Regions from separate parts of the Homo sapiens genome. Here all the other regions are linked to region 1. Evidence: fine-mapped expression QTL. A gene starts in region 1. Each other region holds a variant in brackets. All regions are shown on one strand. Distances are between the middles of the regions.

Region 1 (7,423 bases):
CTCGGCTGTGTTCCATCCCTGCCCCCGCTGTTAACCATCACCTGTTGATTCCGCTGGATTTTCATTTACTACTGGAGAAGGGAACAGAAAACAGAAACACATGTAGGTTTTGAATTTAAAAACTTTTTTTCCTTTTTTTTTGAGACGGAGGTTCGCTCTTGTCTTCCAGGCTGGAGCGCAATGGCGTGATCTCGGCTCACAGCAACCTCCAGCCGAGGCGGGTGGATCACTTGAGGTCAGGAGTTTGTGACCACCCTGGCCAACATGGTGAAACCTCTTCTCTACTAAAAATAAAAAATTAGGCGGGTGTGGTGGCGGGTGCCTGTAATCCCAGCTACTCGGGAAGCTGAGGCAGGAAAAACATTTTTAAAAAACTTGTGATGGCAGAGTCAAAACAGAACAAGCCTCGGAAGATGTGCACATTTAACTGTCCTTCAGTATTCTGTGTAAAAATACCACTCACAGTTCACGTTTTCACTTTTGAAAGGCTCGAAGTGAGGGAAATCAACCATCATAATGAAAGAACAAAAGAATGATTAAAAGAAAAGGTGAATAGGATTCATGAAAACGCTTTGAGGCCGGGCACAGTAGCTCATACCTGTAATCCCAGCACTTTGGGAGGCAGAGGCAGGCAGATCACTTGAGATCAGGAGTTCGAGACCAGCCTGGCCAACATGGTGAAACCCCATCTCTACTAAAAATACAACAACAACAACAAAAATTAGCAGGTGTCGTGGCACACACTTATAATCCCAGCTGCTTGGGAGGCTGAGGCAGGAGGATTGCCTGAACTGGGAGGTGGAGGTTGCAGTGAGTCGAGATCGTGCCACTGCACTCCAGCCTAGGTGACAGAACAAGACCCTGTTTCAACAAACAAACAAAACAAAACAAAACAACCCCCCCCCCCACAAAAAAACAACACTTTGAAGGAGTTAGAGTTGTTTAGAAAAAAAAGAACTAGATTCTTAATGAAATAATATTTAAAAATCCAATTCTTTACTGAAGGTCATGAAAGATTCTATTTAAAATTAGTTAATATTTTGGTAAGGATTATATGTGCATGACATAGTGAAAAACTATCTTTCTTTCTTCTTTTTTTTTTGAGACGGAGTTTCACTCTTGTTGCCCAGGCTGGAGTGCAATGGCGTGATCTCGGCTCACTGCAACAATCTCCACCTCCCGGGTTCAAGCGTGTCTTTCTTTTATTCCTCTTCTCCAGCTGTCTGTTTTCCTCCGTGGAGACAACTACTGGTACTAGTACTGATCCTCTTCTTCCATAGATAGTCTGCATTTGTTTCTCCTAACTCCTCATTGAAAACACAGATGGCAGCATAGCATACTGCACATACTGCCCTATACTTTTACCCCTTTCTTCTTTGCCTTAACAGTATTCCTTAGGCTTTGTTCCGTATTGTGACCTGTAGGGCTGCCTTGTTTTCTCATATACTCACTGTGTAGCATTCCATTCTATGGGTATTCTGTAATTTGCCTAGTTTTCTATTCCTCAGGAAGTTAGGTTGTTTTTGCTATCCTATTTTGCTACTATAATGTCTACCAGAATGAATGTTCCTGTTTGCCTCTTACTTCTACTTGTGAAAGTGAGATAATTTCCTAAAAGAGAAATTGCTGGGCCAAAAAGATGTGCATTTTGAATTTTGGTAGATTTTGCTAAATTGCCCTGAACACAGGTTGTACCAGTTTAAACTCCCACTGACAGGCATGTTTCTTTTCCCATGTCCTCTTTCAGTTTGTTAAAACCTTTTAAAAGCTTTGCCTATGTGATAGATTTTTTAAAAGTCATCTTATTATGTATTGTTTTACATTTCTGTTATCAGTGAAGTTACTTTTAACATCTTTTAAGTTTCTTTTATGTTTATCTCTGAGTATTATATTTTTGCTCTTTGCCTATTTATCTTTTGAGCTCTTGGGTCTTAGAAGTTTTTAAGAACTTTTTATATATTAAATAAATTAACCCTTTGTGATATGTTTCAAATATTTTTTTCTCAACTTGTTTGCATTTTGACTTTGCTTATAATGTTGTTCTGTTGTTTTTGGTTTAAAAAATTTTTTTTGAAAAGTTTTTAAAATTTATATATGTATTATATGTATTATATAATATATATTATATATAATATATAATATATAATATATATTATATATTATATAATATATATTATATATTATATATAATATATATTGTATATGTATTATATAACATATATTATATATATTATATAACATATATTATATATTATATATAACATATATTATATAATATATATATATTATATATAATATATATATATTATATATAATATATATATTATATGCTCTAGGGACCTGCATATATATATATTTTTTTTTTTTTTTTTTTGAGACAGGGTCTTGCTGTGTTGCCCAGGCTGGAGTGCAGTGGCGTGATTATGGCTCACAACAGCCTTGAACTCCCAGGCTCAGGCGATCCTCCCACCTCAGCCTGTTGAGTAGCTGGGACTACAGGGTGCACCACCACACTTGGCTGTTTCCCGCCCCCCCCCCCCCCCCCCCATAAAGATGAGGTCTCGCTAAGTTGCCCAGGTTGGTCTTGAACTCTTGAGCTCAAGTGATGCATCCACCTCAGCCTCTCAAAGTGTTGGGATTACAGGCGTGAGCCACTGTGCTTGGCTCTTTATTTTTCAAATATGAAAATTCAAGAAGACTTCAGTAGATGTCTTCTTAATTTTTGATTAAATCAGATACAGTGGAAAGTCAGGGCTTTGCAGTTTGTTGCTGCTTGGTAAAAGACAAATAGCCATGAATATCCAGCAGGTCAGTAGTTTCTGTCAACATGGCTCTTTTCTAAGTAACAGTTGTGTTGTTGACAGTCATAGATGCTATACCTTTCACTCATTTCCCAGCAAGTCATTTTATTGCCACCATGACTGTTTGCAGTTTAAATGTGTAAAACTTTGCATGCTTTTATTTGATGTGATTGTCAGCATCTTTGAACTTGGGACACTTAAACTTTTTTCTTTCAAGGACTGTGGACAAGCCCAGCTTTTATGTCTCACTCTGGATACTTGAGCAGAGATGCATATGGCAGTCCTTACTGAGAGGAAGGAAAGATGGGTGTAATATTGGAAGGCATGAACCTAGGCAGGTCCCTAGAGCATACTTATCTTCTCTACTTATTGTGAGCCTCCTTAACTGTGAGATCTATAACTGTGCTTCTCATGTGCTTGGCCAGTGGATGGTGTTATTCTTTCTAGTTTTCTATTTACCTTTCTGGAGTCCGAGATCAAAAAAGGATACAAATAAAGCCTGCATTTTGAAAATACCTATTTTTAACTTATTAAGTGGAAACTTTGAGAAGAGTCATTATTACAGAATAATTAGTAAAAAATCACCTTCATTTAGATTCTGCTTTTGGTTATGTAGGTCACGCAGCCTAAGGCAGTGGGAGGGTCTAGGTGTCACCAGTATGGCAGTCAGACGCAGTGACTGTGCTGCCTGTGATTTCCTGTCTGTACCCTGACTGTAATTAAACCAGCACCAGTACCTGTCACTAGGGCACCAGACACACATCTGAGTATACATGAGTAGAGCTGAACAACCTGAATGTTGGTGCTTTTTATTCCATGCCTGGAGGTTTAGTTTTTTTTGTTTTTTAAGTACAAGATGGAGACTGAAAGTGAGAGTAGCACTTTAGGGGATGACAGTGTCTTCTGGTTGGAGTCTGAAGTTATAATCCAGGTGACTGACTGTGAAGAGGAAGAAAGGGAAGAGAAGTTCAGGTGATTATGGAATTCACAGTTCCTTTGTCCTGTCCACTCCCTACCCCCACCCGCACCCCTTTTTCTTCTCTGCATTTCGGTCTTTTTTCCAATAAGACTTTCTGTTTTCTGGGGGAAGGTTTGGAGCTCAAGGGAGCAGGTTTTGAGTTGTATATAGCACTCCTCATTCCACAACTTGCCCTGAACTTGTAAAATGCATTTTAAAGGACTTGTTAGAACGCCAGGAGGAGAAGGTGTTAGACAGGTTTTGTAGTAGCCTTTCAGGAATTTCAAGTAGACACTCATAATGAACTACTACCCCTTCCTGTATCTGATTTGTATCAAATAGATTTGATCTGAATTTGTATCTAATAGATTTTTCTTCCTCTTTTTCTTGGAATGTGGTGTGTGTGTGTGTGTGTGTGTGTGTGTGCGTGCCTGCCTGCCTGCCTGCTTTGTTTGCCTTATGCATGGGTATGAAAAATTCCGATTAAGTACAGATTGGTTATTTTGTGGCTTTGATCTTTACCCTTGTCTCTGATCTTGTATCTCATGCCCCCTTTCCCCCAAATCTCTCTTGGTTTTTGAATCTCTGGTAGTATTAGTAACTTCATAATTGAAGTTTTTAGAGGATGCCTCCTGATGAAGCAGCTCTCAGTTTAGTGTCTGTGGTGAAGAAAGATGTCTTAACCAGTTTGTGAAAACAGAACCAATGTTTCATTCATTCTGTTGTACTGTTGCAAATTTTAGGGGGCTTTATTCTGGCTTTTCTTTTTCTTTCAGAGTTAGCGATGTAATACCTTTGAGTATCACAAAAATCTCTTGATGAAGTTTGAAGTTTGTTGCTGCATATTATCACTGCCACTCACATGTGCAATTAAACATCTTTTATAAGTTTACCTATGAGAACTTGGATAGGTGAATATACTGTTTTCATCAGATACTGTCTTTGTGTTTAATGCTGAAAAAGAGTTTCTCCTTTTCTCGAGTCAAAGGATTTCTTTATCCACAAATTTTATTTTTTAAAGTCTAGGTTAAATGATGGAAGGGATTGAATATTGGGAACTCTTGATAACCCTCACTAAATTTTTTACTCTGGGGTTCAAATAAATGAGAAGTATATTTAAAATTTTAAAAGAATAATTTTCAGAGTATAAAAATGAATTATTAGCATATGATTATTTTTTGTCTGAACTTTTGTCTCATTTTCCCATAATTTTATCTAGCCTTTCAAATTTGAGTAAGTCCCTTCCCTTCCAAGGTATGCTAATTGTTAGTCACATGTTCTGCTTTTTAATATGGTTTGTGTCTTGCTAACAATGAGTAGGACTGAAGTATTTGTTTTGCTTGTAATAAAACTTTTTGACCTGGTATTCAAATTATGGAAGTTATTTGGGTATTTGTCAAAGGAAGAAACAACTTGGAACTTATTTCATTGTTGTTTTTATAACAGATTTGGTACTGTAATCCTAGATTTACTTGTAAGGCAGTGGGCGTCTCTCTGGGATTTTCTTTTGACAGTTAAAAGCAAATTTGTGTAAGGATGAGCTCTTCTTTTCCTTGGGAGTATGTGACAGCATTTTCACTCTGAGAAACTGAGCTAGTGATGTGTTGTTTAAGGAAACTATGATACCATAGGGCATTTCTCTTCTGTTTATATTTCCTATCTGAATAGCACCATGGCTCTCCTAAATCAATTATATCTTTGTGATTTGATCTGATTTTATTTACAAATGTAACAAAGAGGTCTGGGCAAGGCCCAATTTCATGTAGTGTCTCTCACGCATTCAGCAGTGAGGCATGAGGAAATGTGGCAGCAGAGTGGTTTCACAACCTCGTGGTGGTGTTCCTGCCGAGATGCCCTACAGGAAAATGGAGGCATGGGTGTGGAAGGGGAAGGGTCGGATAGGAGTTGCAGCTGTAACCTTGGGAGGACCAAATAGTAGACTCAGTGTGGTATGACAGTTGTTTTTGTAAAATCAATGTAATAATTTTAAAAATGTCTTACTGTGTTTTTATAAAAATCTCTGCAAATACATGTGACATCAAGCTGTCGTATTGGTTACATTTCCATTCACATACACACACATAGCTGAGATGAGGGCAAAAGATTGTGCACTTTTCTTTTTCCCTGAATAGCTTGTAAACTACATTTTAAATGCACTCTTAAAAGCCTGCTCTTGTGTAACTTAAGGCACCATGGCTAAGAGAGTAAAGTCATACCACACCTAGAATGTAGGCTTCTGGTGCTTCCAGGTGCCATCTGCTTTAGGAGGAAGTAGTCTCAGAGACAAGTTAATGTTTGTCCAGTAGCTTTTGAAATAGCATTTATTTTTGGACTCAGTTGGAGGAAAGGATCCTTTTTATTAACACTCTTTCACTATGGGAAGTTGCCGGTCTCCTTCATGGTGGTAGTTTAAATTTGTCTGCCATTGACTCACAGATCTTTCATTTTCTGATTTCTTATTTGTAGTCGGTATTATTACCTACCTTGTCACTGTGGTAAAATAGTTATTAGACTAGAATATTTAGTCCTTAGAATAAAATAGTTCCTAGAGATGATTAGAAAAATCCATCCCTGGATAAGAAGGAGGAATATAAGGCAGAAAAGGAAAAACATAAATGTTTTAATTCTATCAAGAAAGAAAAACTTTACTTAGAAATTGTTATATGTAATGTACTAGGCCATATATATGCTTTATACAGTGTATCAGTTAACTGCTTATCACTCCTATAAAGCAGGTATCATTTTTCCTATTTCCTCGGTGAGGAATTTATGGCTCAGAGAGTCACACAGCCCACATTTGTCATGGTGGAGCAAAATTTTGCAAGTGGTAGCACAAAAATTTGAACCCAGATGTAACTGACTTTGAAAGTGAAGACTTTAATGAAAGATTTTTGGGGCTATCTTCTGCTAAATGCTATTTTCTGCTAAGTGATAACTTATAAGAGGCTACAGCTGATATCTCAAGTTTTGAAATTCCTTTTTTTTGAGGAGGTTATGAGCATCAATGACATATAGATTATGTGACCATCATAAAAATGAAGTAATGAACACAATAATGTGACTTTTAAAAAATGTGACCTCTAGGACACCTAGGAATCATGAAAGGTTCTAGTTCTTTGGCATTTGAAGGTAGAAATGTTTATCATATGATTTTGTTTAGACTTCCCTAATACCACGTTATGGGCTGATAGACAGCCTGGCAAATATGACATATAATTTGAAGCAGCTACAGAGATGATATAGTGCTTAATTGAACCATATTTTTGATCACGATCTGTAGATGCCCAGATCGCTGATCTTCACGTATATCTCCATTATTAAGGCAATTCATTTTAAGTGACGAGAAAGTTCTGACTTTAGTTAAACTGGATGATTTGGTGAACATATTTTAATTGGGGGGGACAATGCCTTTATTGATTTATAGCATTATAGAACTAATGATACTTCATGCACTTGACTCGTTGGTTGGTTGCATTATTCATCCTCTACCTCAGGGGTTCCCAACCCCTGGACCGTGGACCAGTTATCTTATTTGGAAGGATGCCACAAGTTAGAAGCTATTGTGGCAGTCTAAGTAGGTAGTAAGGGTCTTGACTGTGGTATTGTACATCTTCTAGGCTCAAAACAGCTTTGAACTCCCAGGCCCAGGCGATCAGATCAGATC
Region 2 (7,423 bases), 94 kb before region 1:
GAACACATTCAGAATGGCAGACATATTCAGAACGGCAGAAACATTCAGAATGGCAGGAAACAACTGGACTATTTGCTTAGAAATACTGGTCTTCTGGAGTTAGAGACTTTCGTCCTTACTCCATTTTATGAAAGTCTTCGTGTTTGCTCAAGTCTACTCTTTTGTCTTTCAAGGCTGAAAAGTGCGTCTGCGACAGCCTTTTCTGGAAGGAAGGTGTGTTCAGTGGGTTGTGTGGGAACAGTTCAAACAGCATTGTGAGCATGACAGCTTCCAAGTCAAGGAGTTGGTTATTAATTGCTCAAAGCTTGAAATGCCAAATATATGTGAGTGGGAGGTTATGATTTCTCATTCTCTGTCTCTCTCTTGCTCTCGTTTTTCATACGTAAGTTTCAGCAGTTGGACACTCTCCCCAAGAGAGCAGCGTAGAAAAGAAACATCCGTGGCACAGTTGTCCCTCCTTAATGGTTGAGTGCACAAAAGTTACATATAAAAAAGGTAGCATGAAGTAATAATGCTCCCACAGACTCTCAAAACACCAACTGTAAGCTACTTCATTCTTATGCCATTGTAAGGGAAGGAGTTGGGCAATATTATCATCCCCGGTATTCAGGTGTGAGATTGGAGGAATGGAAGCATTCAATCATTTCCCCAAGGTCGCTCTGTGAGTCTCTGGTGGAAACTGAACTTCAGTAACAGCGCAATTAGCACTTCATAAGCACCTGGTAGACCTTGACACTGCTGATCCTGGGTCCCTGGAGATGTACAGCTATTCTCCAGATAAATACTCTCTCTCTCTCTCTCTGTCCCTCTCTCTCTCTGTGTGTGTGTGTCTCTCTCTCGCTGTCTCTCTCTTCTTCTCTTTGTCACACACACACACACACACACACACACACACACACGTACATACCTATGGTTGCATAGAAACAGGAACCTTCACTCTTCCTGGGCTCTGCTTTTCACAGGGTAACCAGGTATGTTATACTGTGATAACACACCTCACAGACATGTGTGTTGGGTTAAAGAAAATCCTGGATTTGTAGATAAAAAGAACTATACCATCTCTGTGGGGATTACAGTACCAGTCCTGAATTCTGGGATATGACTGATCACAGTTATATTGCTTAGAAGTGAAATGAAAAATTGAGGTCTGAATAAGTTTAATTCAATGAACATGCAGTAATAAAGATAGGCTACAAGGTAAATAGATTTATATTTACAGAAAACCATACAAATATAAAGTATTTGGGAGTAAAAATTAATGAATATGTGGACCAGGTCCTGAGGGAATATGCTAAGAACTGAACCTATTTCCTATAATAAACTGAATTTAGGCAATAATTAGTACCAGCCAGCATTAATTGTGTTCCCAACTGCTCAAGGAGTTTAGTCAATTATAAAATTGTAACGGTTCTACCAGAACATGCGTGAACTTGGGGACTTTTCTGGTTTCATCAGCCAAGGCCCAGGGCCAAGACCTCAGCATAAAACCAGTCTTTGCGACTCTCCTCGGGACTTCCCAAGGAAAAATGGGAAATCAGTGTCAGATAGTGTTTTAAGAAACAGCTCTCCTGGGACTCACTTTTTAACTAAACAAAATCCTTAAGGCAAAGGACTGAGGCACTAGGCATGGAATTCTAAGTATCAGCCGGTGGGTGTGGGAAGAATTCTGACTCTCAGAAGTCTGTGTTGTGCACACACCTTTAGTGATAAGATTGCTCCACCAGCCATTACAAGTTAGAGAAAAAAAAAAAAAAATCATGACACTAGAAATGTCCAACAACAGGGGACTAAAAAAATATGGCATAGACATATGATTATATACAAATAATGTAGAAATATTTATTGGCAAGAAAAGTTTAAAAAGCATTAAGGGGAAAAAAGCAGATTGCATGCATTATTTTCAGTATGATCTTGTTTCTGTTAAAATTTTTTATATATATCCATGTACATGAAGACATGTAGAAGATATGTACCAAAATATTAATAATGATTACCTCTGAATTGTAGTTATGAATTTTTCCATTTTACTGCCATTTCTAATTTTTTTAAACCAGGGGCTTGTGTTGTTTTCTCTCTTTTTAAATCTTTTTGTTTTCCTCAAATATAGAACACTATACAGGCTACTCTGAATAAAAATGGTATTTTAATTTAACATAAACACAAAAGGCTATCCTCCCTTTTATCTCCTAAAGTAAGGAGAGATTCATGAGCTGCTTAGTAGTTCATCAATCATTCATGTGTCCTATGTTCCAGGTGTAGAGTATGGGAATCTAGGCTAAACAAAGCTGCGCTGCATCCTGTGTTCCTCCATAGAGAAGACTGAGGAAATTTCCACAGCAGCAGGATACCAGGCAGAGTTTCCAATGGCAGTGGGCTACTGCCATTCATTTTATTTCTCCCACCCTGGACACATGTAGAATATCAAGGTAGTCTTTGAGGTAGGACAGTTCTTGTGATCTCTTAGGTCATCTCATTGGGTTCCTGCTGTTGCTGGCCATGGGGCCATCCCTGACACTTTAAAATTAGTTACTGACACAGATTCCTAAAAGCATAGTCTGAGATATAAAAGTTATTTCTGAGAAACAAAGTTGCTTCATTCTGAAGACTACGTTTAGAGGTTGTGCACCAGCAGACAAGAGTTTATGTAACAGTTTGTCTTTGTTCCTCGAGCCATGTGTGACCTTTCTGCTCCTTCCTGCTGACACCATCCCCGACCGAAAAAGACAATCTGCTCAGCTTAATGTCCCTCCTTCCCTCTGGAGCCTTCGTGGAGTGTAGTAACAGCAGCTGCATGACTTGTACATAATGTAAATACTTTATTTACTTTTGTATTTAATTTATGCATCTGTCCAATGTTTGCACAGCTGTTTGATGTCTGTATACTCGGAGATTAGCTTTTGTGGGTTTTGTCGATCTTAAACCCAAAGCATAGAGAAATGGAAGGGTCTCATTATTTGCTTTTCTTTGCCCAGCCTCCAGCATGGTACCATACAGATGAGAACTTAATGAAGAAGGATGCTTCTGAGTAAGATTTAGTCATCTCCTTGAAGATACTTTTCTCCTTTGGAAAAGGAAGAATCAAACTTTCCTGAACTTCTCAGGGAGAACATGGTGGTTGACTTTGTTTCTTCTGTCAAAGGACATCATTATAGTACCAAGGTGACATCGAGGAGGTTTTAACTCTCCCAAAAAGTTGCACCAGAGGATTTGGGGAGGTGTAGGATGTGACAGCCAGCCCAGAAGCAGGGCTAGTAATTATAAAATGGGTGACGATGGAAAAATTGCTCTC[T/G]TCTTCGGGGTTACTTGCCCATCAAAGAACAGCAAGGACTGGGCATGTGAAATGCCAATGGTTTGGCTAATCAACACGCCACAGCTTAGCTGGAGTCACTGTACTTGAATGTGGTTTTGTTTTTAATGCTGTGTTCTTGTGGGCATGGAAAGAGTTACAGCCAACTGCCCCAGGTATGGTAACTAGAGGCGGTGGTGGAAATGTAAATGTAAGGACCCTTTGTCTTCTCCCCTCCAGTAGTAAAGGGGACGAAAGAGAGTGGAGAAGGATTGCACTCTTCTGGTGGACTTTCTCCTGTGATGCACAGAAATGCACGGATAACGTTAAAAATATTTTAAATTGTATTTATTTATATATTTTAGAGATGGGGTCTTGCTATGTTGCCCAGGCTGGTCTCAAACTCCTGACCTCAAGTGATCCTCTTGCCTTGGCTTCCGTGGTACCTACCTGTAATCCAAGCTATGATCGCTTGAACCCAGGCATTTGAGATGAGACTGGGCAACACAGTGAGACCCCCATCTCTAAAAAAGTATCGTCTTGTTTTGTGTGACCTGGCCATCAACACATATTTACAAAAAAGAGATATCTCTCTTTTATTATCATAAAGCATAGACTGAATTTTAGATAGGTTTTGAATCTCTCTGTGCCTGAATTTCTCTCAAAATTAATAGTGCCTCATATTTGATAAAGCACTAAGTTTTCTTTTGAAAGGTGCACAGAAAACTCTGCATTGCCTAAATTATAATTTTCTCAACTATTTGACCCAACCTATCACTGTTGTAGTATTCTTTAACAGAGCATTCTGTTACCATGAGTAAGGGAGTTGCTGCTTTTTTTTTTTTTTAAATCAATCAAGAACTACAGATAAGTACTTTTAAAATCAGACCATGACTGGGGAAAGCAGGAGTCAACGAGTCAGTTTGAGTCTGTTATCAGCTCTGCCTGAGACTGGCCTTTTATATCACTCTGAGGAGTAATGCTGTTTGTTTTCAGCATGAAATACATAAGAGAAAAAATTAAGTAGGGAACAGGAGAATAATATTTGGATAGGGTAGTTTTATTATTTTGTCTGACACATTATGTCCCCTAGCCCTCAGTATATCCAGGGATCATCTATGCTTAAAGTTAAATACAAGATAACTTCCCAAGCCAAGTACAAGTGATTTTAAAAAATAATAAAATGCCTTATAGGATTACCTACTACAGTTCTTAAGTTGCCCAGGAAACATCACATCACTGCATGCAGTGTCAGAGACATCGGTAAATCCTCCGCCAACAAGTATTTTGAATATAGCAGAAAAACACAGATGTTTTAGACCTTCTGAGATGCATTAAGTTCTGGAAACTGGAAGCCATAAAAGACAAAATCGTGGGAGGGGAATTGCTGGGAGCACCCTGGGAAAGCAGCCACCCTGGAGTTGAGTGACCTCTCTTTGATCTCTAGCTTTCCCAAGTCACTTTCCCATGCATTTCCTCAACACTGGTTTCAGTTCTTTAGATCTAATAAAAGCCTTTGGGGTTGGGAGCATCACTGAGTAGAGTGCTGATTCAGGCCAAGCTTGGAGGGAGGAGTGGAGCATTCAATGTGTTTACAGTAAAGTGTGTGTGTGTGTGTGTGTGTGTGTGTGTGTGTGCGCGCTTATGAGTAATAGCAACTTCTCACCACTGTCACAGCCACCAATGGGAGATTTAGCTTCCTCCAAGTCACCTCAATTAAACATACGCTCTAAATAAAGCAGCATGCTTGCTGGAGACAGAGCTTCAAAAAGTCCCCTAGATCTCTTTCTCCTTCCAAACATTTTGCTGCCCTGAAGCATGTCATATATAGAAATGTTATAGTTGCCTCTTTGTTCATTCATTCTTTCAAGGATCTCCACATTATATTGTTTGATAAGAAGTGGAATTAATACTTTACACAAATGCTTGCATTTCCGTGCTATTCCTTTCACTTCCTGATCATAGTGCACTCTGACTATAAAATGGATTACGTGTTGTTCCTCCTAATGCTTCAGTATATAGAGCCTCCCATGGTAGGTGATATACTTGGGTGACTCTACAGGTTGCTTCGCGACTTCCAAAAGTTTTTTCTGATAATTTTGGAAGTGCTGCATGATTTAGAAATGCTGATTCACTTCAGTCTTTAGACACATTGAAAAAATATATTATTTCTTCCTCATTTTCAAAATATTACACAAAGAAGTTTGGAAAGTAATAATAATCACTGTTCACTTGCAAAATTCCTTTCTTCTAAAACATTTTTATAATAATTAAGTCATTCTATCTTTATGATACCCAACTAAAGAGGACAGCGGGCAAGCCCATTTTACAGATGGGAAAACAGATGTTAATTGCCTTGTCCAAGACTACATAGTGAGATAAGATAAAAAATGAAAGGGAAACTTGTCCTCCTAAAATTTATGTTCTTTCTCACCATGGTGATTATTTCAGTTTGGATTGAGAAGCCAATTCATATAATTTGGCTTTTTCTGTGCCTTTAATTTCTACATATTAAAACCTAATTGCAAGGTTAGACTGTGATTTTGTCCTACGGGCACTAAATTCCTCATGTAATATGTACCTTTCTCTGCTGAATCTTGATATTTTCTTAGATTTTCAGTATAGTTTGTCTTGATTTGACTTGCAGTGCACTGCAAATGATATAATTTTATTGTGGAATATATGAGGCTGGAGGGCTGGGGAGAGGTCAGAGCTGAAAGTACAGGAAATTTAAATTACATAATGTTACACTTTGCAATTGTTTCCACTTGTACTAAGTATAAAGATAGATCCATGGCAATACACAACAGCAGGTAAGAAGTGTGTATAAAGACTTTGCACCCTGATAGTACCATTTATGTATTCATTTGGCATAAACATACCCATTTGTGAATAAACAAAGTCCAGGCCCTCATGGTGCTTACATTTTAGGAACAGAGTCCAATAATAAATATTGATTACACAACATAATCATGTAGTGATAAGTGCTATGAGAAAAAAAAGAAGCAGAGTAAGGGGACAGAGAAGGCAGAACTATTTTATATAGTAGTAGGAAGGTTAATTTAAAAGCCAGGAAGGTGGAGTCTTCCTGGCAGGTCTGAGAAACCTCAGGAGGGAGGTGGGTGTGGCTGAGGCAGAGTGAATGGCAAAAGGTAAAAAACTGAACTGGTGAGTCAGGGCTGAAAGGACTTGAAAGGCTGGGAAAGGACTTTGGATTTTATTGCAGTGTGATTAGAAGCACAGGGCCCTGGAGTGTTTTGGGCAAGAACAAGGACATTATCTTACCAATGCTTTACAATAAATTCTCTGGTGGCTGTGTAGAGGCTAGACCGTGGAGGGGAAAAAGTGGAAGCAGGGTGATGGTTCGTCTGTCCCAGTCACCCAGGAGAAAGATCACGGGGAGGGCAGACATGGGTGTTCGTGGTTAAGAGAGAAGGATGCGATTGGCTTCCGTACCATTTGAAGGTAGGCTAAAATGAACGTGGTGATTGAAAGGAAGAGATATTTTTTGTCCTGTGATGAGGCAGACTTGGAGGAATCAGTTTTGGGTTTTGTTTACAATATGGAAATCAAAAGTTCTGTTTGAGACACATTAAGTGGGAGATATTCAAATGGAGATGCCTGGAGGCAGCAGGATATAAGAGGGTGGAGTGCTGGGGAGGGGCCAGGGTTAAAAGTAGAGGCTACTTAAAGCCTTGCTGGAGGATGCTGCCTAGGGTGGCAGTGTAGAAAGAGAACAGGAGGGGCCCACGGTCAGAGCCCTGGGGCAGGCAGCAGATAGAATCACAGAGGAGGCCAAGGACCCCATTCAAAAGTGGACATGTCAATAGGTGGAGTTGGTGTTAAGGTTTAAAGACTGAAAAAAAAAATTTCATAGGAGAATAACACAAAGTTCTGAATTACTATGATAGAGGTTCATGATGAAAATGTGATAGGGAAAGGAGAGAAGATGGAAAGTTTATCATTTCAATGAATGCATCAGGGATTAATAACATCTCAGTGAACAGCAGTACTGGTGTTCCTTAAAATGTTGCCCATGGTAGTGGGCATGGATTCCATGTTTACAGGGGCTGTTTCACGAGCGTCAATATTAGCAAGGAGTATGCTACAGACAGACAACACATCTTTTTTTGACAT
Region 3 (7,423 bases), 50 kb after region 1:
GAAATGGCACACAGTTTAAAGCTTATGAATTATTTCTGGAATTTTTCATTTTACATTTTTGGACTGCAGTTGACTGTGGATAACTGAAATCATAGATAAGGTGAAATTTAGACTGGTTCTTTTTAACCCATCAACTTGTAAAAACATTTTCAATTTGAATAAAAGAAAAAGTATTTGCAAATGTTTTTTAAATCAGTATCCTTAGCTCTTTTATTCCTGTGTGATGTTTAACTGTTTATTTTGATTTATGAGTGAATTTTAATTCAGAGGACCTAGTGATGTTTATCATCTCAGTCTTTAAAAGCGGAATGTTTTATGTTATGTTGCTTTGTGAACCATCACAAATGTAACCATTGATTAATATGCAAAGCCCAGGTTTTGAATTTTTGCCAGTTTGTTTGGAGCTCTTCAGTAAACAACTGTTAAGTCTGTCTCTATCCTATCCTCTCCCGTGGTACGTCTTCTCTGGCTAAAGATTCTATGACTTCTCTGGCTAAAGATTCTGTGACTTCTCTGGCATGAATCAAGTGGTATTAATTATTGAAGTTATTTAATACGTTACTGAGAACTCTGATAGTTGGAGTCTATGAAATTGATAATTTTATAGGTCAAAATTTTAACAATTGGCAGTTTCATAACGTAAGGCCTATAACCGTTTGAATTGTTGAACCAATGCTTAAGCATGTGACTATTGTTAATCATTAAACTGAAAACTATATTTCAAGCATGCTCTTTAAGTTGTTAGGTGATCTGGATGTTGCTTTTACTGATATGATTTGTTGTATAGCCTTTCAAAAAATTTTTAAAACTTACAAGATATTCAAGGAAAAAACTACATGAAACATGCAGGTGGAGGGACAATGGTTCTTCTAGGTCTTACTTGGAGTGTCATGGTGGTCTAGGATCTTGCTATTTCTTCCTTTATTAGAAATTTTTCAAAATAAACATCTAGTTTGTGGTCTTTCTTTTCTTCTACCCTTCTTCTATTCATACTCTTTTCCCAGAATTTATATCATTTATATTTATAATATATCTTTAAATATTGCATGCACATTTTTACTAGTAAATCTAATGTACACAGAATTCAAGTGTAGAAAGAGATCAGTATCATTTTCTAGCAGCGCTGAAGACTGACAATAACTTACCATAATAAAGTACCTGTAAAGGTAAAGTTCTTAGAGTTTCATAGGAACCTTTGTATAAAATGTCTGGTAAAATTATATACATTGTTGGAACCCTGTATTTTTAGCGAGCCTTCTGAATTTAGGAGTATCTTTAATGATAAGGGACTGAGATGAAGGAAAGGATGAATCTCAGTTATAGAAAAGTATAACATTTAAAAGCTTTGCTAATATGTAAATGTGTTAATTTTAGGTTGATTAACCAGCTGTTGCCTAGCAGAGGAGTTGTGATTATTATGCTAATGGTGCTTTCTAATAGTTTTTTCCAAATTATTTTAAATATCGCCTCCGAATAATTTTTCCCTGTGGTTAATTGGCTCTCTGAGGAGATATTTTCTAGAAGTGAAGTTTAAGGCAACACCCTTGCTGCAGAAGAGCTAGTTTTATAATCACTTTCAGAAATCATGTTTTTTCCTTCAGTCTTCTCATCCTGTTGTTCCCACTCAAAATAGAGAATTGAATAAGAATAGTGATACAATTTACCCTTGGGGCTTATTTGATGGCTATTTCTGTGTTTGTGAATTACCAGCTACTGAAATTTACCTGTCACCTTCTTTGATTCCTGTTTCTGGTTTTTGGCACTTCCACATTGGTGGTGCTAGATAACACATGGGAGGATGTGTTCCTGAGCCTGGTCTGTGGTGCCCAGATATTAAGACATTAGGAAATATTCCCCATTTAGCACTATTTTTAGTTCAGAGCTCTTGAGTTTTCTTATATGTGAAGTGTTTTTTTAGTAAAATTGCTAGGCTGTTATCAAGTCTGATGGAGGTGCATAACGCTGAAAAGAATTTTGAGAGAAACCACTAAACAGCATTCACAGATTCGATTTAGAAAGTGTCTGTGTATTTTAAATAATTATTGCCATATTCTGTGGAGACTCATACCTGAACTCACAATATATAAACATGTAAAAGCCTAATTATTTTTTTCCTTAGTACTGTACAGTGATGATTTTTCTAAGGACCTGCAACAATTTTGAATAAGTAAAGAAAATTGTAGTTTGTTTTTAGCATTAAGTCTATTTTGTTATATCAAAATTCTTTTGCGGATATTCACACATGTAACTCAGTTATTTGAATTCCTTGTGACATACTTATTTTTTAAGAATCACTTTAGTAACATTGTTGTTCAAAATAATATAACACAGTTTTAATAAATCTATCTTTCTGATGGTACAATAGTTTCCTTCCATCCAAGGGGAATATGTTCCAAGACCCCCAGTGGATGCCTGAAACTGCAGATAGTAATGAACACTATATATACTGTGGTTTTTCTAGTACATATGTACTTGATAAACTTTAATTTATAAATTAGGCACAGTAAGAGATTTACAATAACTAATATAAAACAGAACAGTTATAATGATATACTGTTCACAGTTTCATGGATAGAAGGTTCATTCTTCCTGTAGATCTCAGCAGCCTCAGTGTATGATTTCTTTTCTTTCCTTATTAAGTTGAGAACTTCACCTTTTCACTTACAGAAGCACTTTCCAGCTCCTCTTTGTCATATCCATGTTGGCAGCATCACTCCTCTTGTGCTTTGGGGCTATTATTAAGTCAAAGAAGCGTGAGTTGAATACAAGCACTGCAATACCATGAGAGTTGGTCTGGTCACTGAGATGACTCCCAAGTGAGTCACCGGCGGGTAGTCCACAGTGTAGATGCACTGGA[C/T]AAAGGAATGATTCATGTTCCAGGCGGGACGGAGTGGGGCGGTGCGGGACTGTGTGAGATTTCATCACATTACTCAGAACTGCATGCAGTTTAAAACTTATACATTGTTTTTTTCAGGAATTTTCCATTTAGTATTTTTTGACCGAGGTTGACCATGGGTAACTGAAACTGTGAAAAGTGAAATAACAGATAAAGGAGGACTACTTATTGGATTTCCCCTACATTGTCTCTGTTCTTTTTAAGAAAGGGGACAATACTTAGACCAATGGTAAAATCTTCTAAAACATGTCATTTCAGAAATTCATTATGTGTGTTTCTTATGGTTAAACTGCAGGAAACTGGCAGTCCTGTTTGCCTTTCTTGACAGCACAAATTTTGTATCAAAATCTCGTTTATTCAGTTGATTATATATATATATATATGCAGTTTTACCAGCATATAGACAGCTGCTATTTTTTTTTCTATTTAAGAGGCCAAATTTTTTTCCCCTTCATCACTATATTTTAAGCAGAAATGATATTTTTGTCACCATTTCAAGAAATATTTATAACATTAATCTAAAGCTTCTGTGACCTCTGTCAAATTCTGACTACAAATGATAAAGATAATACAATAAATAAAATTTGAATCTGTTAAAAAAAGTGAAAAGTGGCAAAAAGTCACTTTTTCCTCAGAATTATTTTCAGATGCTTTTTGTTAGCCTTATACAGAAAGAACACTTTGATCAAGTCTTATTATACTTTCCCCATGCATATTTTAGTGGTTTTTTTTTTTCCTTTAAGAAAAAGAGCAATCCTGGTCCACTTTGATAGCAGCATATACTTAACACTGATTGCATTTTGATGTCCTTTATGAATGTGTATTGGGTGATATTATTTCTGATTTTCCATGGCAATTTCAGATGTTTTATTGTTCTTAATTATTAACTACTCATTTTGATTAGTAGTTTGCCTTTCATGACAGTACAAATTTAGTATTGAAACCTTGTTTATTCAGTTGATCTCATGTATATAAATATACATATGTATGTTATTTGACTACGGTGCCTTGTCAAAGTATGAGAGCGTTTTATGTAAATGAACCTGTACTGTATATGTAATTATGTCTGTACTGTTCAGTAATTAATGTCATAGATCTGGAGTTGGGACATCCTACCTTCTGTCTGCTCTGTTCTCTACTGTAGGAGGCCGATCCTGGCAAATAACATTTCTCAGGCTCCTTTGCCAGCAGGCTTTTGGCTCGGTTTGGCAAATGGGAAGCACACGTGGAAGACAGGAGGGCGGAAAGAGGGGAAGAGCCGGGGTATTTCTTCCTCTCTTTTTCTGCCTTGAGAGGGGTCTCCACTACTGTTCAGATAGCTTATATCAGATAACTCATAATTTGGTTCAGTGATTAACAAAAAAATCTTTTTTACTACTATAACATGGGCAAATTTCTTCATAGAAGCATTTTTATTCTTGTTCTTTCCTGACCATAAATATGAATGCCTAGCTTTGCACATTGTAGTTATATAGATTATCTAATCTCATTGATTTATGACAGGTTGTTTTACATTTGCAAATGGTTGCTGTAAGTAATACGCAGAGGAGGAAGAAGCTAGCTTGTGACTTTCTCTTTCTCTCTTTCCTTTTTCTTTCCCTTTATCTCTTTTGCCCTTTCCCTTGTAAAAATAAAACATACAGAAAAGTGAAAAGAAAAAAAAAAGAGGCTTTCCCATAATCCTATTTCCCATGGTGGTGAGATTATTTTGGTATAGGCTTTTTACAATGCAGAGAGTTTTTTTTTTTGATTTTATATATTTTATTTTTAATTGTAATAAAATACACATAGTATTTACCATCTTAACCATTTTTTCTTTCTTTTTTTTTTTTTAATTATACTTTAAGTTCTAGGGTACATGTGCACAACGTGCAGGTTTGTTACATAGGTATACATGTGCTGTGTTGGTTTGCTGGACCCATTAACTCGTCATTTACATTAGGTATTTCTCCTAATGCTGTCCCTTCCCCATCCCCCTACCCCATGACAGGCCCCGGTGTCTGATGTTCCCTGCCTTGTGTCTATGTGTTCTCATTGTTCAATTCCCACCTATAAGTGAGAACATGCAGTGTTTGGTTTTCTGTCCCTTGCAATAGTTTGCTCAGAATCATGGTTTCCAGCTTCATCCATGTCGCTACAAAGGACATGAACTCATCCTTTTTTATGGCAATGCTGAGAGTTTTTTAACAGAACATCCGTATAAGCACATTTTTCCTTATACAAATGTCTTCAAATGGTTAGTTTCAAAGAATATTGCTTTGGGATATATTCTCCTTTCCCATCATGTCTGGGAATATGATTTTTAAAATAATTATGGACAATATACAATTTTATATTTCCTTGCTTTTCCATTTAAACATAAGCATTCTACCTGATTATTAAGGTGCTGTGCAGTGCAGGTGAAACTTCATATTCCCTATTGTATATTATGGGAGTTGCCATAGGTAAAGGAATTGGCAGTTTCACTGGAAGGAAAATATCTCTGAAAAAGACTGGCTAGTGGACACAGTGGTAGACACCTTGGAAGGGGGAATTAAAAAACGTTGCCATGGAAAGGGAAAGGAATTAAATTTTCCTCCCTTTAGGGGGAAAGAGTGTTGTCTTGAGAACTGCAGAATGGGATGTGGAACAGATTGTAGACTTCACACTTAAAATGCAAGATTGCCAGGGAGATAGGAGAGCTGGTTATTGAACTGTGTCAGATCTGTGTACCTCCCTCCAGTTACCTATCTCACCTGCAGAATTTGCTCCTTCCTCTAGGATTTGCCTTCAAGTGCATAGCTTACTCCTTTGAGGAAGCCTTAAGAAGGTGGTTTGGGATGGTACTGAAGTCATTGCATTCAATGGGGTCCTGGGAGTGCTGGGAGGCAAAAGCTTCTGAGGCTTTACATCCCAAGTCCTGGGAAAGAGTTTTACTTCCATGAGAGATAAAGGAGCATATAAAATCTGAGAGCACTCAGAAATTCCTAAGGTCTTAGATGTTGTTAGTATTTGTTTTTTGTTGAATATGTATAAGAAATTATCACAAGCTTAAGGGCTTAAAAGAATACCCATTTATTATCTCACAGTTCTGCATGTTAGAAGTCTGGGCAGGCTTAACTGGGTTCTCTGCTCAGGGTCTCCTAAAGCGGAAATCAAAGTATTGGCTGGGCTGGGTTCTCATCTGCAGATTCTGTTGGCAGAATCCAGTTCCTTATGGTTGTAGATCTGAGGTCCCTGTTTCCTTGCTGGCTGTCATTGTGGGAGGTGTGGTGGCATAACTTTTAGGGGCTGCATGAATTCCCTCTCATGTGACCCCCTCAGGCTTCAAAGCCAGGGGTGGTACTTGGTGCTTCAAATCTTTGACTTTCCCTTCTGCTACCAGCTGGAGAAAACTCTACTTTTGAAGTGCTCATGTGATTAGATTAGGCCTATCCAGATAATTTTTATATTTTAAGATCGACTGACCTGGGATTTTAATTACATTTGCACCCTCTATTCTCAGCAGTACCTAGATTGATTGAACAACCATGGGGTGGGAATCTTGGGGGGCAAGGGAGACCCTCTTTAGAATTTTGCCTACCACAGTCTTACATGTTTTCTCTGGTATTTATACTTCATAATATATTTAACGTGATAACATTGATATATTAGTTTGTTTTCATGCTGCTGATAAAGACATATTCGAGACTGGGAAGAAAAAGAGGTTTAATGGACTTACAGTTCCACATGGCTGGGGAGGCCTCACAATCATGGCGGAAGGCAAGGAGGAGCAAGTCATGTCTTAACATGGATGGCGGCAGGCAAAGAGAGAGAGCTTGTGCGGGAGAACTCTTTATAAAACTGTCAGATCTCGTGAGACTTACTCATTATAACGAGAACAGCACAAGAAAGACCCGCCCCCTATGATTCAATTAATTACCTCCCACTGGGTCCCTCCCATGACATGTGGGAATTGTGGGAGTTACAATTCAAGATCAGATTTGGGTGGGGACACAGTCAAACGATATCAATTGACATTTGTCAATGGAAATTACAGATATTTTAGAAATTTTAATTTCACTAATATACCATAAAATCGATTGGGCAGGGGAAGCATATATATAATCTGTTGTTGTTGATGTTAAATGAAAATGTTGATAAACATATTTAATGACTATACAGTAATAGGACATATTATTGCTGTTTAATTAATAAGACTGAGTTTTGTTATATATTTTTCATTTAGATTAATACCTTTATGATGAGTTTTGCTTTTTCTTTTTACTATTATTTTATAGGGAATTACTTAACTAATTAATATGGAGATTCCCAAATTACTTGCCAAAAGGGTTTTATTAATTCATATTCTAATAAGTAATGTTTAGCGACTTTTGTGCCATTGTTTTCAGTCTTAGAAAGTTTTAAAATATAAAATTTTGATAAGAGGAAAGCTATTTCTCATTGTTCTAATTTTTTATTTTTAAAACTTCATTGTTTCTGAACTTTTTATATGCCTGTTTTAGACATGGTAGGTTTTGTGATAAAAATCCAGTTCAAATTCTGTGA

Which allele goes with the higher level. Positions count from the first base shown, and alleles are read on the strand shown. Sizes are in standard deviations (SD) of each study's normalised expression. Not every link is listed here.
For the expression in whole blood of the gene that starts at base 3,531 in region 1, T is the low allele of the variant in region 2 and G is the other (large effect, 1.3 SD a copy in Lepik 2017).

The links. PIP is the estimated chance that this variant, and not a neighbour inherited with it, causes the effect.
Region 2: its variant is fine-mapped to the expression of ARHGAP32 in whole blood (TOPMed, PIP above 0.99).
Region 3: its variant is fine-mapped to the expression of ARHGAP32 in tibial nerve (GTEx, PIP 0.95).

What each region holds. Positions count from the first base shown.
Region 1 is chr11:129,188,433-129,195,855 of GRCh38, reverse strand. ARHGAP32 (Rho GTPase activating protein 32) reads left to right here and starts at 3,531. Exons shown (of 23, transcript NM_001378024.1): 1 at 3,531-3,773. The coding sequence starts at 3,658.
Region 2 is chr11:129,282,354-129,289,776 of GRCh38, reverse strand. LOC124902791 (a long non-coding RNA gene) reads left to right here. Exons shown (of 2, transcript XR_007062950.1): 2 at 2,973-4,817. LOC399975 (a long non-coding RNA gene) reads left to right here and starts at 6,613. Exons shown (of 2, transcript NR_145484.1): 1 at 6,613-6,751. RefSeq lists an enhancer at 6,245-6,746. The variant T/G (reference allele first, on the strand shown) is at 3,290.
Region 3 is chr11:129,138,929-129,146,351 of GRCh38, reverse strand. The region is part of intron 2 of ARHGAP32 (Rho GTPase activating protein 32); the gene reads left to right. Among named protein-coding and RNA genes, the nearest start is that of ARHGAP32, 50 kb to the left of the region's middle. RefSeq lists an enhancer at 2,411-3,610. The variant C/T (reference allele first, on the strand shown) is at 2,858.